Linked DNA regions of Homo sapiens: region 1 is linked to region 2. A link means that fine-mapping ties the variant in region 2 to the expression of a gene that starts in the linked region. Tissue or cell type: cerebellum. Region 2 holds a variant in brackets; the other region holds the start of a gene. All regions are shown on one strand. Distances are between the middles of the regions.

What was found. PIP is the estimated chance that this variant, and not a neighbour inherited with it, causes the effect.
Region 1: it holds the start of MROH1, and the variant in region 2 is fine-mapped to the expression of MROH1 in cerebellum (GTEx, PIP 0.92).

Annotation. Positions count from the first base shown.
Region 1 is chr8:144,146,665-144,149,337 of GRCh38, reverse strand. It overlaps MROH1 (maestro heat like repeat family member 1), which reads right to left and starts at 1,322. Exons shown (of 44, transcript NM_032450.3): 1 at 1,262-1,322. RefSeq lists silencers at 1,091-1,470, 1,641-1,840, 1,961-2,050.
Region 2 is chr8:144,276,002-144,278,674 of GRCh38, reverse strand. BOP1 (BOP1 ribosomal biogenesis factor) reads left to right here. Exons shown (of 16, transcript NM_015201.5): 3 at 2,371-2,451. Among named protein-coding and RNA genes, the nearest start is that of SCX, 11 kb to the right of the region's middle. RefSeq lists a silencer at 818-867. The variant G/T (reference allele first, on the strand shown) is at 1,485.

The DNA of each region.
Region 1 (2,673 bases), 130 kb after region 2:
AGCCTCAGGTCATTCCACTCTGACATCAAAGAGAGACCAGAGACACCTGTTCACGGGGACCCTGAGAGCCTGAGACTGAGCACTGAAGATCCTGCTGACGGCAGCACCCTAGGGTGCCCAGACTGTCCATGCAGCCACGTCACAAACACGTACCACCTATGAAACATGCCGCAAACAACGATTCCCACACGCATCTCCAGCCCTCGCCTCGCCGGGACCCGAGGTCTTCGGGACATCTCCATCCATGGTCATCGCACTGAGACCCAACAGCTCTAAACTCAACTCACCACCCTCACCTGACTTATCACCGGCCCTACCCTGCCTGCCTCTTACCGCATCGTGTGCGTTCACCACCATCCCCTTCCAAAGTGGTCCCTGCCTACAGGGCTGTCCCCGACCCAACTCTGCTCACATCCCTAAGTTCGGCCACACCCCCGTACCCCTTTTCTGCTTACCTCACTGCACTTGAGTTTATGAGTCTGTCCCTTCCCCAACTGAGCAGGCAAAGGAGCCCCTCCCCAGAGTGTGTAGGACCGAGCCACCAGCGCCCGCAGAGTGGTTTCCTCTGACCCTCACACTGCAGCTGCACTGACGCTGCCCGAAAATCCGACCCCCTAAGTCTCACCTTGGCTGAGTGAGGGCTGGCTCCCGGCGGCCCTGCCAGCGCTATGCCCGGCACGCTATGACCAGTCATCCTCGTGACTAGGGACAAATCACCTTCCTGCTCGCGATCGTCAGAGAATACGGAAGGCATACGGAGGCCCGGGGCACGCCGGCTTTGCAGGCTCCGGGCGTATGCTTGGCTTCCCGGAGAGAGGACCCCCGGTGGCCCCGCCTGGGGGGAGAAGGGCCGGGGACCACCGCGCTCCCGGGGAGGGCCGGGCACTGGGGACCACCGGGCTCACAGGAGGGGCGGGCACCGGGGACCACCGGGCTCCCGCGGAGGGGCGGGCACCGGGGACCACCAAGCTCCCCGAAGAGGGGTGGTCGCGCGGCCGAGACGACTTAGCGGCGCAGAGGAGGAGCACAGCCGCACAGCTCCGGCCTCTCTTCCGGGCTGTGGCGCGGCGCACACCTGAGCCGAGGTCCCCGCGACACCCAGGACCCTCCCAGCGTTCGCCCTGTGACCTTGGGGAGGCGCCTCCTGACTCGGCTTCCTCCGCGGCCCCGCCAAGGGAGCCGCCCCAGGCTCTTCAGCCCAGACTTCCCCGAGGGGCTCTTCCCCAGCGCCGCCGAAGGCTCATCCCCACCCGCCGTTTACCTGAGGAGCCGCCGCCACCTCGGCCGGGGCGCCGCCTTCCCGCCCAGCAGGGGCCCGGAGTGGGCGGAGCCGCGCGCGCCGAGCCCGCCCCCGCTGCCTTCTGGCCACCCGCAGCCTGGAGCGCGGCAGCAGGTCCCCGCCCCCGAGCGATCTCTGCACTTATTGGTCGGGGGCACGTCTCTCACGCTCGCTCCACCCCGCCCACCTTCATTTGCAAAGCAGCAGTGCGCAGACTCCGCCTCACGCTCGGCCCCGCCCGTCTGTTGAGCGACAGTTCGGCCGCCACGGCGCAGGCGCGGCCTTCAGGCTCGCGACAGCTACGCCAGCCCCGGGGTGCTGCAGTCCCCGTGTCCCCGTCGGACGCATACAGCCCTGACGACCTCCGCTCCCAGACGCCGGGGACGCGGGCTCGGCGCGGCGTTGCGGCCGCTCGCAAGCACACGCCCGCCCTGGACTCGCGCGGCCCGCCCGCCCTCTGTCTGCCCCGGAAGCGCCAGCTGGAGGCCGCGGCACCCGGAGGGGGGCAGGACTCGCAGGGCCCTGCGCTCGTTGGGAAAGAGGCGACCAGCGGGGTCCCGGGAACTCGGGACGCGATAAGAGCGATGTGAGGAAGGAAAGCGCCCGCCGCGCGTCCAGGCTGGGCGTCGGCAGAGGCGGAGGCGGCGGGAGCAGCGCGGGCAGGATGTCCACTCCTGGCCGGAGGGACTGGGCTCCCGCTGTGGGGACGGCGCCCGGGAGAGCGCAGTACCCTTTGCGGATGCGGGCGCGGCCCCTGCGGCGGCTTCCCACGCGCCTGTGGCCTTGTCCCCTCCCGGTCTCGGTGCCGCCCCCGCCTCACGCACACCAGCTGCCGCGCGCAGCACAGCCCCACTTTCACTCCGATCACAAACGAACGCCAGCCCCTCCGCCAGGGGCAGGCCTGAGTCTGTATTTTGCTCCCGAGGGCTGCTTACAAAGCCCCGCACGGGACGGCTGCCCAATGAAGCCCCGGGAATGGACTCAGGTGCAGGCAACGACGCGGATAATCGAGACTGCAAAGGGAGGGTGGACAGAGCCAATGGCCGTTCTGATCCTGCAGTCATCACTTGGCTTGACACTCGCGGGCTTCCAGCTGTGTCCTGCCACTGGTGGGAGCGGAGGTGTGCCGCAGGGGCCGCAGGCTCCCAGGCTCCGCAGCAGAGCCCAGAGGCTCAGCCACCCTGGGTCGGGACCACCTGGCTCCGGTTCTAGAGTGGCCGCTTCTTGCAGCCCCCACCTTCGACGAACTCCACCCTGCCCCCGTGCCTCTCAAGCCCTTCTGACACTTAAGCAACCAATCCCACCTGCTTAAATTGCCTGGCGCAGTTTCTATTTTTTTCCTAATGAAGGGGTGGCCTGCCCCTCCACACCTGTGGGTATTTCTAGTCGGGTGG
Region 2 (2,673 bases):
CCCCGACAGCGATGTTCTGGCTCTGGTCTCTGGGCAAGTTAGGACTGCTTCCCTCCTGCTGTCCACGTCTCCAGCAGAACCCTCTTGTGGGCAGCCCTGGGAGCAGAGTTCTCTTCCCACCGAACCGGGACACCGCAGCTCTGTCGCCATCCTCTCCCAGGAGGTGAGGGCAGAGCCCGTGTCTCATGCCTGGTTGGTGGCAGTGGGGCACGGCCTGGCTGGCCTGATGCTGGGGAGGGGAGGCTCTGGTGTGGTCACAATAGGGGGCTCATGCGCTTGGACACCGTTTCTGTCTGGCTGAGCCCACTGTGGGTTTCTCCCTTTGGTCCTCATGGTGACATTCTAGCCCTGGGGCTGGGCAGAGGCCACGCAGGGTTCAGGGACTACAGCAGCCTTTCCTTGGCCCCAGCGGCCCCGCATCCTGCTGGCACCTCGTCCTTGCGCTCCCCCTCGGCGGCTCCCTGCCCACCCGTCGGTCCTTCAGACCCGCCTGCCTCTGCCCAGTGGCGCTCGCCCGCCCACTCTCTCAGCTTTTACTTCACCCTCACGCAACTCTCGTGCTCCATCGGGCCCGACCCCTCCTCAGTCAGGCCACGCACACTGCGGGTGGTGCTGGAGACCCTGGAGAATCCGGGCTGACTCCAGGCATGGGCGTGGCGGGAGGGGGTCCTGTCCCCAGGAGTCCGGAGCGTGGCGTGGGCTCATGTTCCGTTGTCTGTGTCGTTAGGGTTTTGGTGGCCTTTTCCTCTAATTTTTAAGTTAAAAAAAATACGTTCAATGCCCCACAGCATCTGCCTCCAAAATCTGAAGGGGCCTTCTAGGTCAGGCAGTTCCCAGCAGTGGCCGCCCCTGCCCGCACCGCCCCTGCCCGCACCGCCCCTGCCCTTCGGGCGCTGGGCCTGGCTGAGCGCCGTCGCCCCCTGGTGGACTCTGTGCCCCACAGCTGTCCCACGGGGATGCTGCGCCCCTGGGAACCCAGCACCTTCGAAGGCCACCTCTGCCCCCTGCCCAGAGCCTGCCTGTGCCGTGGCCTGTCCACATCCAGCACAGGGGCCACGGGGCACAGAGCGCTGGGTGACAAGTCTTTTGTCACCTGCCAGGACCCTGGGACTGCGGCCCATGAGCAGCGAGGCTGGGACTCCAGCGTGCGGTGCTTCAGCCCCGGCCACTGTGAGGGGTCGGGAGCCCAGCCCGGTACCCGTCCGCAGAGGCCAGGCGGGGGCAGCCGACCGCAGCCGGGTGTGGAACTGCCCTTGTGCGCGTCTGGGGCTTGGGGCCGGGGTCACGGATCTGCTGCGGCTGTGGGGGCTCATGTGCTCCAGGCAGGGGCAAGAGCTCCGTGTCACTGAGCGCCCCAGGCCACTGTCAGCAGCAGGGGGAGACGTGGAAACTGAATCCTTCCTTGTTCCTGGCCTGGGAAAAAACTTAGTCTCCCATCTCTCTTTATATTGAAGGAAAAAACAGGCAGGGGAGGAGCCCGGGCC[G/T]GAGAGAAGAGGGGCTCGGGGTGGGGGCGGGGGCGTGCCCGCCTTCGCTCTGGGGTTCCTGCGCCCGAGCACTTTACTGCCCCCACGGGTGAGAGGTGGGCCTGTTTTCCCCATCAGCCTTGGTTCCGCCAGTAAACCCGATCCGGTTGGAGCCATCCTCACCTCCGCAGTCGAGGGCAGAATCTGTTTTCCAGGTTGGGATGTGAATTCTCAGTGGCGCCCACTCTGTGACCCGGCGGGATGGGGTCAGCCTGGGCTGTGGACGTGGTGGGTGGGAGAACGCTGGGCAGGCCTTCTGAGTGTTCGGGGCCCTCTCTGGGCCCTCTGCTGGCTGGACTGGGCGGGACGTGGCCCCCGGGATGGGTGGACAATGTGTGTCCCCCGCCCCTTCAAGAGCATTGGCCCCAGTGACCCTGCTGCGACGGCTGCGTCTCCTTCTTCCCCCCGACCATGCTGCCCCCGTCCCAGGCGGGGCTCGGCAGGAGCGCCATGTGGGGCCCCTGGGAGGAGTCCTGTGGCTTTGACATGAATGGGGGTACGGGTGGTTGGCGGTGGGTCTTGGTCCTCAGCTGGCGGCTTTGCTCCTGACTGCCCCAGTGGCTTCCGTGTCTAGCCTGACACCCGTGTCAGCCCAGGGACAGAGGCCCCGGGAGGCTGCAGTCCAGCCCTCACAGAGGACAGGGCCGTGGGCAGGACCTGCGGCGCCGGGTGCCAGCCACAGCCCCCAGAGGCCCCCTTAGAGCTGGGTGTTCTCGGCCTTGTGCTGAGGCCTGTGCCAGGCTGGAGCTGCTCAGAGATTTCGGGGTGGTGGGCTTCCTGGGATCCCCCCAAGGTCAAAGGGTACCCTGTATCCCCTGAAGTGACCATTTTCTCTCTCTCTCTGCAGGCCAGCACTCCTTGCCCGAGGACAGAGATGGCGAGCGCCCGGATTGGGGATGAGTATGCGGAGGACAGCTCTGATGAGGAGGTAGGACTGGGGCTGCTTCCCACTGGGCAGGGTGGGGCGGCTTCCATCACAGCCTAGCAGGTGCTGGGGGTTGGGGCTGGGGTTGCCCTGGGGGTGCTGGGACCTGCCGCAGGTGGGCCGCACTGTTGGAGCCGAGGCCCACGTGGGCGTCCTGCTTCCCCATCTGCAAGAGCAATTTCGGGGTCTGGGACACAAGACTGCAATGTATGTGTGTCATCATGG